Regions from separate parts of the Homo sapiens genome. Here region 1 is linked to region 2. The links come from fine-mapping of genetic effects on gene expression. Tissue or cell type: whole blood. Region 2 holds a variant in brackets; the other region holds the start of a gene. All regions are shown on one strand. Distances are between the middles of the regions.

Region 1 (5,147 bases), 38 kb after region 2:
GAGCCTGGTGCTTCACGATGCTGCTCTGGTGATTCTTGTACCTAATCTGGTGTGCTCACCAATGAGTGAAAGGGATCGTGGGTCAGGGACACCGAGAGAGTGAGGTCACTTCCACTTCAAACCTTCAGTGAGGGGGTGGGATGGAGAGAATGCTGAATCTTTTTTTTGACGGGATGGGGTTTTTCTCTTTGTAATTATTTCTTTAGTTTAATTAACCTTTTGGTTGTTTGTGCAATATTATATATTTTAAATTATAATGCATCTCCCCAGAGTATTTTGTAGCTGGGAAAAGAAAAAAGGAAAAAAAGAAAAAAAGATTCTAACAGCTGTTAGTTTTATAATTAAAAAAGAAAGAAAAAAGAACTTTGTCCTGAACCTTTTACAGACTTGCCGTTAACAGCATTAAAGTGATTCACCCGAAGCTGAAAGGTGTCTGGGGGTCTGTTTTTGTCCCCTTGGCAGCTGCACTGGGCCAGGGCAGGACTGGCTTCCCACTTGGAGCCAGAGACAGGGTAGGGGGATAGCCTAGGTCCAGAGGACGTACCTTGTCCTCATCCCAGATTCAGCTTTGCCTTTGGGATGAGAAAGGGTCAGGGCTCGCAACAGGCCTCTCACTGGGACAAGGAGTCGGGAGGCCATCTCTGCACTCCCAGTGCCTCTGCTTTCCTTTGGAAAGGAAGTTGCAACAAGAATGGCTTCAGTTGCTCTTGGTCATTTTTATCCTCTCTTCCCCCTGTTTGTATATGATTCTTGGGTCTATTTTAATTAACTTTAGTATGAAAATCACTTGTCATGCCAGGCGCAGTGGCTCATGCCTGTAATCCCAACATTTTGGGAGGCCAAGGTGGGTGGATCACTAAGGTCAGGAGTTCCAGACCAGCCTGGCCAACATGGTGAAACCCCATCTCTACTAAAAATACAGAAATAGCCAGGCGTGGTGGGAGGTGCCTGTAATCCCAGCTACTGGGGAGGCTGAGGCAGGAGAATCGCTTGAACCTGGGAAGCAGAGTTGCAGTGAACTGGAATCGTGCCACTGCATTCCAGCCTGGGCGACAGAGCAAGACTCTTAAAAAAAAAAAAGGAAGTCTGAATGAGGCCCTTTGATTCCATGAAGATCTCTAAAAGGAAAGAGTAGTAGTAAGGCTGGGGTAGATGTAGGTAAGTTTTAGGATAAGTAAACTTAAAGCGTAAAATATATATCACCATTTTAGAAGCGGGTTTTTGGGTTTGCTTTCTCCCCCTACTTTATTGGAGAGCACTTGCCATTGCTTTTATCAAGTGCTTGCTAGCCATGGATGCCAACTAACTTCTTCAATTGAAGGCCGGAGGATCATATCGGGTTCCAGGAGCCTCTTGAGCAGGTCCTGGCAATCGGCCGAGATGCTCAGATGAGTGGGGAAGGACACCCCCTTCTGCTGCTGCCACAGCATCTTGGGGATGTCTGTGTCGTCAAAAGGTAGGCTGGCACAGAGCATGACATACAGGACCACACCCATGCTCCAGACATCACCTTTTTTGCTATCGTGGGGAATGCCCTGCAGCACCTCGGGGGCAGCATAGGCTGTACTGCCGCAGAAGGTCTGGCTCAGCTCCCGGTGTGACTTGGGCAACACCTTGGCAAAGCCAAAGTCAGTCAGCTTCAGGTTGAAGCCCTGCAACAAGGCGTTCTCACATTTGAGGTCCCGGTGGGCCACACCACAGCCATGGCAGTAGCGGATGGCCTCAACCATCTGACGGAAGAGGGCCTTGGCCCGGCTTTCAGGCAGTGGCCCCCCATTCAGCACGCAGTCAAAGACATCCCCTCCCTCAGCGAGCTCCATCACCAGGCAGATTTTCCCGTCGGCAGACTCCAGCATCTCATACACCTGGATGATGTTCTTGTGGTCCAGGGTACGGACGATTTGGAGCTCCCGAGGGAGGAATCTCTGGATAAACTCTGAGGAAGTAAGGGGAGGAGAGATGGGCTGGCAGATCAGAAAGGCCCACCTCCTCACACCTGTCTCCTGCCTTCCAACTTCTGCCCACCTTGTCTGGGTCTTATTTCTTGGCTTTCTTAATGGTCTTAAGTGTGTCTAGCTGCTTGGACATTGCAAAGAATGTTCACTTCTATTATTTTTGTCGTTAGTATATCATTCAAAAGAAGCACTCCCCACCAGCCTTGTGGACTGTTGTGAGCAGTCTGTGAGACTGGATATCAAGGTGCTTTAGGGACTTTTAGACAAAGCCACAGAATCACAAATTATAAGGCCTGATTTGTCCACAGGGTGGTGAGCCAGCTCCTCCCGCCACTGTCCCCTGACCCCACAATTCTTTCCATGAGCCCTGTCTTCCTTTTTCCCATCTCCACGGGCCTTGGCACCAGCCCCTGTTCTCTACCAGCCCTGGTTGTGGCCTCTGCCAGTCTCTGTTCCCCTGCCGGAAAGGAAAGCCTGGCTCAGGTTTTGCCTCTGAGGATCCTTCACCTCATGCCACTTTCATCTTGCATTCTGGGGGGGTGTAATGTTCCTGGACTCCCAGAACCCCTCTGTTCCCCACTGACCCACTCCAGAGCTGCCATCGGGCTTGCTTGGTTCCAGGCCAGCGGGAGCAGGGAATGATCGAATGATCGTTCTAACAAACAGGAGGAAGCACCCACCCACCTCAGCCAGTCCTCCCTCCTTCCCTCCAAAGGGGCCCCGGCTCACCTTCTGGCCCTCCCATCTTGTCTATAACTTTAATTGCCACTTTTCTTTGGTGTTTTTTGGAAAATGCTTCTTTGACTTTTGAGTAGGTCCCTTCCCCAATGGTCTTGCCCAGCTGGTACCCATTGGAGAGCAGAAAGTCCTCCATGCTGTCTAGCGCCGCCTTCCTATCACCCTCTCAGCTCATGCTGCCTCTGAGAGGCAGCTCTACTCCACCATCGCCCTTGGCCTGCTCCTTTTCTCCCCAAGGACTTCATCCGCAGCCGCCCCCAGCGTTAGAACATTCTCTGTCTGGACACAGCGGCGGGTGGTGGGGAGGGACAGGGCCAGACATTTTTAAACTCCGGTGCAATTGTGATGTAGATGCTGTGTGACCCTTGGCCAAAATGGGCAGTGCCCCTACCTGCCCTCACTACCACCACCAAACTCAGCCCGGATTAAGTCACCGCCGAGCCCGCCCCCGTGCCAGGCATTGAGTTGTAGTCCCGCCTGGGAGGGCGCTCCGCCGCGTCTGTGTGGACCGGGAATGCGCGGCTCCTCGGCGTGGACGCCGCCTCGCGGCGGGTTGCCCTGGCCTGCTGCGCCCCCCTCGGGTGTCCGGGGTCTGCGCGACCCCGTCTCCAGGCGCCATGGCCAGAGGCCTCCAGTCCCCGATTCTGGCCCGCGCTGAGTGCCAGGGGCGGCAGGGGGCACCGTTGGGGGTTCTCCAGTGGGAGGAACGTGCTCTGTGAGGTCAGCGCGCCGCGGCCCGGGTCACAATGCTGCCCTCCTCGACGCCCGGGCCCGGGCACGCCACAGAGACCTGCCCGGCTCCGCCTGGACCGGAGCGTTCTCCCGCGGCCAGGGCTCCGGCAGCTGCTTCTAGCCTGGGACCGGTCTCAACCGCCGGGAGGTGAGCGACGGCCCAGGGGGCGGGCGCGAGGCGGCGGCGCCCGGCGACCCGGGAGAGGCCTGACCGCCACTCCCCGCGCAGAGCGCCCCGGGGCTTGGACATGAGCGCCCAGGAGCCCCCGCAGGGTCGGAGATTCCCCATTGAGGCCGGAGACTCCCGTGGCCTTGCCGCCGCCCCCGAGTCCCAGGACAGCCCGGAGGCGGTAGCGACGGAGCACAACCCGGTCAGGTAAGGCCCGCGCCCCACCCCCGCCTCCGCCCGTCCCGCGGCCCCGCCCTCCGTCCCACTTGGCGCCCCCAGCAGTCAGGACCCCGCATCCACGTCCGGACCCCCGGGGACCCCAGGTGCACTCCCTGGGTGCGCCCCACAGGATGGGCCAAGCCCCTGCCTCAGCGGCCCCTGTCGCGCGTCAATTTCCCCAGGCCGCTTCGTCGCTGCCCTGGATGCCACTGCCTGACGCTGCTGCACGTGCCCATCGACGTCTACCTCGCCATGGGCGGGAGCCCCCGGGCCCGCGCCACGTGAGTGCGCCTGCTCCCTGCGGCTCCGCGGGAGCTGGGCGGGAACGAGGCCCCCAGCGGGCCACCACGCTGAGGTCGCATGCGCCGAGCACGAGACAATGATGCACATTTTAAAATAAAAGAATGATGCACATTTTAATAAAGCACAGCACAAACTGTTCTTTCCACTCCGGGCTGGCAGTGTATGTCTATCCGTCGGGCCCACCAGCTGCTCTGCCCAGTCCAATAACACTTTCCCTTCCGCAGCCTCCTCGTTTGGACCCAGCCTTAGGGGCCCGCCCTTCCGCCTTTCAACCTACGCCACTTCACTCCTCTCGTATCTTGCTGGTCCTGACCCCTCCTGGGCAGCCTTTCCCTTGGGCCCTGCCCTGGTCCATCTCTCTAACCCTCTGGTGATTCTCCGGTGAAATTCACATCACTGTGCTGGACCCTGGCAACCCACAGAAGCGGGGAACAGGAGGAAGAGGTGGACCGACAAGTAACATAGAATACAGCCATAGGCCACCCACACCAGGCTATCTATCTATCTTATCTATCTATCATCTATCTATCTATCTATCTATCTATCTATCTATCTATCTATCTATCTATGAGATGGAGTCTCGCTCTGTTTCCCAGGCTGGACTGCAGTGGCATGATCTCTGTTCACTGCAACCTCTGCCTCCCAGGTTCAAACAATTCTCCTGCCTCAGCCTCCCAAGTAGCTGGGACTACAGGCACCCGACCAGACCCATTTTAATCCTCTCGAGCGAGAAGTTCTGCGACAAAGTTCTGCGACTTGCTCTTTGTGGCCCTAGGTGCCTGGGACCTTCCTTATTGGAAGGGTTTGGAGCTGCCCCAGTCCATCCTGAGCCTTGGTTTCTCCCAGGACTGAAGTGATCATAAAAAGATTGGGGAAGAGGCCATTTGAAAAATGGTGGCTTGCCAGGCGCGGTGGCTCACGCCTGTAATCCCAGCACTTTGGGAGACCGAGGCAGGTGGATCACAAGGTCAGGAGTTCGAGACCAGCCTGGCCAACATGGCGAAACCCCGTCTCTACTAAAAATACAAAAA
Region 2 (5,147 bases):
TGAAACTCCGTCTCAAAAAAAAAAAAAAGTACACTATTATATAGTATTTCCACCATATAGATACAATAAATGTAAGTTACTTCAAGAACACAGATGAGCTCTCTGCTCTTGCCATACAACATACAGACACATCTCGTGTAGCACCAGCAGCAGCCTTGAGACATCATGGTGTGAGTGAAGGCCAGAGTAAATAGATGGGACCATATTGGAAGCCTGTTTACCAGGGCTGCTTTTAACTCTAGCAAAGTGGATAGTGTCACCATCTATGACCACTTCATTCAGGTCAACTCCATGGTCTACATGTTCTAGTATGACTCCACCCATGACAAGTTCCAAGGCACCATCAAGGCTAAGAACAAGAAGTTTGTCACCAATGGAAATCCCATCACCATCTTCCAGGAACAAAATCCCATCAAAATCAAATGGGCTGGTCCTGACGCTGATTATGTTATGAAGTCCACTGGCATCTTCACTGCCTTGGAGAAGGCTGGGGCTCACTTAGAGGGTGCAACCAAAAGGGTCATATCTGCTCTCTCTGTTGATGCCCCCATGTTTGTGATGGCCGTGAACCTTGAGAAGTATGAAAACAACCTTGTGATTGTCAGCAACGCTTCCTGTACTGCCAATTGTTTAGCTGCCCTGCCCAAGGTCATCCATGACAACTTTGGCATCATGGAGGGACTCATGGCCACAGTTGGTGCCAATATTGCCACCCAGAAGACTGTGGATGGCCTCTCTGGGAAACTGTGGCGTGATGGCCACAGGACTCTCCAGGACATCATCCCTGCATTTACCCACTCTACCAAGGCTGTGGGCAAGGCCATCCCTGAGCTTAACAGAAAGCCCACTGGCATGGCCTTCCATGTCTCCACTGCCAACATGTGGGTTGTAGACCTGATCTGCCATCTGGAGAGAGCTGCCCAAATATGATGACATCAAGAAGGTGGTGAAACTGGCATCGGAGGCCACCCTCAAGGGCCTCCTGAGCTACACAGAGCACCAGGTTGCCTCCTCCAACTTTAACAGAGACACCCACCTTTTCCACCTTCAATGCTGGGAATGGCATTGCCCTCAAAGACCACTTTGTCAAGCTCATTTCCTGATATGACAATGAATTTGGCTACAGCAACAGAACGATATACCTTATGGTCTACATGGCCTCCTAGGAGTAAGGGCCCTCTGAACCACCAGCCCCAGTGACAGCACGAGAAGAAGAGAGGCCCTCAGCTGCTGGGGAGTCCCTGCCAAACTCAGTCCCCCACCACACTGAGAATCTCCCCCTCCTGAACACTGTTTCCATGCCAGGCTCCCTGAAGAATGGGAGGGGACTATGAGACCGCACTTTGTCATGTACCATCAATAAAGTCCCCTGTACCCAGCCAAAAAAAGTAAAGTGAGCATAAATGATAGTGAAATATATAAAAGTAATTACATAGTGATGAGTTTGGGTTATTTATTACCTTTGTTTTTATTTTATTTATTTATTTTTTAGAAATGAGCTCTTGCTCTGTCACCCAGGCTGGAGTACAATAGTGTAATCATACCTCGCTGTAACCTTGAACTCCTGGGCTCAAGCGATCATCCTGCTTCAGCCGCCTGAAAAGTTGCGATTATAGGTGTGAGCCACCACACCCAGCTCTATAACTTATTTAATGGTAAGTTTATAAAATTTAATTAAATAATGTCCGTGTTCAACAACCAGCTTTTAAAATTCCTTTTTTTCTTTTTCTTTCTTTTTTTTTTTTTTTGAGACAGGGTCTCCCTCTGTCACCCAGGGTGGAGTGCAGTGGCTCGATCCCTGCTCACTGCAACCTCTGCCTCTCAGGCTGAAGTGATTCTGCTGCCTCAGCCTCCCAGGTAGCTGAGACTACAGGCGTGAGCCACCACACCCGGCCAAAATTCCTGAAATGTTAACAATCAGCTCTAGAGGGCTGAACTAGAACCAGTCCATGGGCTTTTAGGCATTCCCTGTGCTGCCTGCATCAGTAACTTAGGCATTTTGGTCTTACACTGGGTTCTACAAATTACGCAGCCAGTCCTCCTGCCAACTCTATGCTGGAATCTGCACGCCAAACCGAGGGCGGGCTTGGGCCTTGGAAATTTCTGAAAGGCTTGAGTCACCTCCCAGGATTATCCCAGGCCTAGCAGCCTTCCACGGAGGAAC[C/T]CCACCCTGTCCAGAGGAGCCAGAAGGCCTCTCCTAGGAGCCGGGGAGATAGGGAGCCGGGGAGCCCGGGAGCCAGCTTCCCGTGAAGAATGAGTCCACAGCACCATCTGGTGGCACCTGGGTGTCAGGGCTCCTTGGGAGCAAAAGCCAGGATCCTGGGATAAGAATCACCTGCCAATTCTAATGGGGTGGGTAGGGGGAGTAGGAAAAAAATCATCTGCCAAAAGGGGTCCAGCAGTGTCAGAGGGGGGATTTGAGTCAAAGGAGGGTCTGAGGGTGTGGGATTTACCTGCATTCATACTTTGCCTAAGAGCTGCAGGAGACTGTAGAGGCCCCAAGGACAGTGAAAAAACTGAATTTCAGAGAGAAAAAGTGACAACTGCCCATAAACCAGTATTAAAATCTAGCTCTGCTGACTCCCAAACCAGTGTTCTTTCAACATACTGTTTAACTCAACAGATGTCCATTAGCCCTCTACCAGCGCCTAGCATTGTATGAGGCTCTGAGGACAGGGGTAAGGAGGTAAGACAATCATAATCCCTACATGAGGACTTTATGCCTTGCAATGTGCTAGGTGTTTTATTTATTTTCTTTAGTCATTACAACAACCAGAATTAGTATCCCAATGTTAAGGATGAAGACATTGGCCGGGCACAGTGGTTTATGCCTGTAATCCCAATACTTTGGAAAGCCAAAGCAGGTGGATCGCTAGATCCTAGGGGTTCGTAGACCAGCCTAGGCAACATAGCAAGACTCCATCTCTACAAAAAAAAAAAAAATTAAATTAGGCATGGTGGCACATGCCTGTGGTCCCAGCTACTCAGGAGGCTGAGGCAGGAGGATCACTTGAGCCTAGAAGGCTGAGGCTGCAGTGAGCCATGATCATGCTAGTGCAGTCCAGCTGGGGTGACAGAGTGAGACCTGCCTCAAAAAAAAAAAAAAAAAAAGGATGAATATGTTTGATGCCAGAGGTTATGGCAGTGAAAGGAGCCAACGGTCAAGGTACTGGGGTGAACAGATAAGGAAGACCAAAGAAACCCAAGCAAAGGGTCCCACTGAATCCACAGTCACTAGGGACATCATGGGCGAGCACTCTGCTGGGCCTGGGGGTGAGGAATGAGACAAGGTGAAGATAACGAAGGACAGGATGCCTGCAGCTATCATCTGGGTGGGGAGGCAGGACATAAGGTTGGAAGAAGTTAAGACTAGCATGAAATGCACAGAAGCTTGATTTTATTAGACAGCCTTGGGTTCAAATCCGAGTTCTGCCATTTCCTAGCTGTGTTACCTTGAGAAAGTCACCCCATATCTCAGAATCTTAGCTTTTTCACTTTTATTTAAAAAAAAATAATAGAGGCCGGGCACAGTGGCTCATGCCTGTAATCCCAGCACTTTGGGAGGCTGAGGCAGGCGGATCACCTGAGGTCAGCAGTTCAAGACCAGCCAGGCCAACATGGCGAAACCCTGTCTCTACTAAAAATACAAAAATTAGCTGGGTGTGGTGGTGCACGCCTGTAATCCCAGCTACTCAGGAGGTTGAGGCAGGAGAATCGCTTGAACCTGGGAGGCTGAGGTCGCAGTAAGCCAAGATTGCACCACCGCACTCCAGCCTGGGCGACACAGTGAAACTGTCTCAAAATAATAATAATAATAATAGAGATAGGGTGCCATTATGTTGCCCATACTGGTCTCAAACTTCTGGGCTCAAGCAATCCTTCCATCTCAGCCTCCCAAAATGCTGGGATTACATGAGTCACCGTGCCTGGTCACCTTCTTCATTTATAAAATGTAGATTAAAAATAGTTCCCACCTCATTGAGCTTTTGGGAAGGTACACTGTATAAAGTGCTCACCCCAATGGCACCGTTAGATCTGTTAACAGTAGCATTCAATCATTTGATCACATCATCTTCACAACACAAATCATTTCCTTATTCCAAACCTTTGGTGACTCTCCTCTGTCCATGAATTTTAAGTCCTGCATTCAAGGCTCTCAAGAATCGAGATGTTAATGACCTTTACAGCCTCACGTCCATCCTCTCTTTTCCTTTTTCTTTTTAGCTATTCCAGATTGCTCTAAATTAGTCCTGTCTTTGTCCTCACTCTCCTTGCATTTATTCTTTCATTCACTGAACAAATATTGAGTGTCTATTATGTACCAAACACTGTTGTAGGTGCTAGCCGTAGACAAGTGAACAAGACAGACAAAAATCCTGCCTTCATTGAGGTTGCATTTCTAGTCTGAAGGAGGCAAACAATTTTTTAAACAAAGTATAATATACAATATGTCAGAGAAGAGAAATGGGGGTGCTTGTTATGCAACTTGTGATTTTAAATAATGTGGTCAGGGTGAGTAAGAAGATTATATTCAAGTAAAGATCTGAATGAGGTGAAAGTTAGAAGCACATAAATATCTGGAGGTAAGTGCAGTCTAAACAAAAGGAACAGCAAGTTGAAAGGCCCCAAGTCAGGAGAGTCCCGGGAATTTTCAGGGAATATCAAAGTAGCCAATGTGTCTGGAGCAGAGTGACTAAGGGGGCCAGTAATGTGAGGTCAGATCAACTATACGGGGCCTTAAAGGAGACTGTGAGGACTTATTGGCTTTTTCTCTGAGTGAAATAAGAGGACATTGCAGAACTTTGGGCAGAGGAAGGCTGTAATCTGGCATGTATATACATATACATATATATATATATACACACACACACACACATGTTTTTCTTTGTTTTAAAGACAAGGTCTCTCCATTGCACAGGCAGTAATGTAGTGGCATGGTCACAGCTCACTGCAGCCTCAACCTCAAAAAATTAGCCAGGGCTGGGTATGGTGGCTCATACCTGTAATCCTGGCACTTTGGGAGGACGAGGTGGGTGGATCGCCCAAGGTCAGGAGTTCAAGACCAGCCTGACTAACATGGTGAAAACCTGTCTCCACTAAAAATACAAAAATTAGCAGAGCATGGTGGTGGGCACCTGTAATCCCAG

Evidence for each region. PIP is the estimated chance that this variant, and not a neighbour inherited with it, causes the effect.
Region 1: it holds the start of FAM229A, and the variant in region 2 is fine-mapped to the expression of FAM229A in whole blood (INTERVAL, PIP 0.99).

The regions. Positions count from the first base shown.
Region 1 is chr1:32,360,384-32,365,530 of GRCh38, reverse strand. FAM229A (family with sequence similarity 229 member A) reads left to right here and starts at 3,046. Exons shown (of 3, transcript NM_001167676.2): 1 at 3,046-3,573; 2 at 3,655-3,801; 3 at 3,996-4,261. The coding sequence starts at 3,440. The coding sequence ends at 4,098. TSSK3 (testis specific serine kinase 3) reads right to left here and starts at 2,992. Exons shown (of 2, transcript NM_052841.4): 1 at 2,685-2,992; 2 at 1,219-1,936. The coding sequence starts at 2,829. The coding sequence ends at 1,275. It overlaps BSDC1 (BSD domain containing 1), which reads left to right. Exons shown (of 11, transcript NM_018045.8): 11 at 1-898. It overlaps LOC124903933 (a long non-coding RNA gene), which reads right to left. Exons shown (of 3, transcript XR_007065642.1): 3 at 4,203-5,147. RefSeq lists silencers at 3,115-3,314, 3,465-3,764.
Region 2 is chr1:32,398,134-32,403,280 of GRCh38, reverse strand. It overlaps the pseudogene GAPDHP20. Among named protein-coding and RNA genes, the nearest start is that of BSDC1, 6.3 kb to the right of the region's middle. RefSeq lists an enhancer at 2,369-2,488. The variant C/T (reference allele first, on the strand shown) is at 2,165.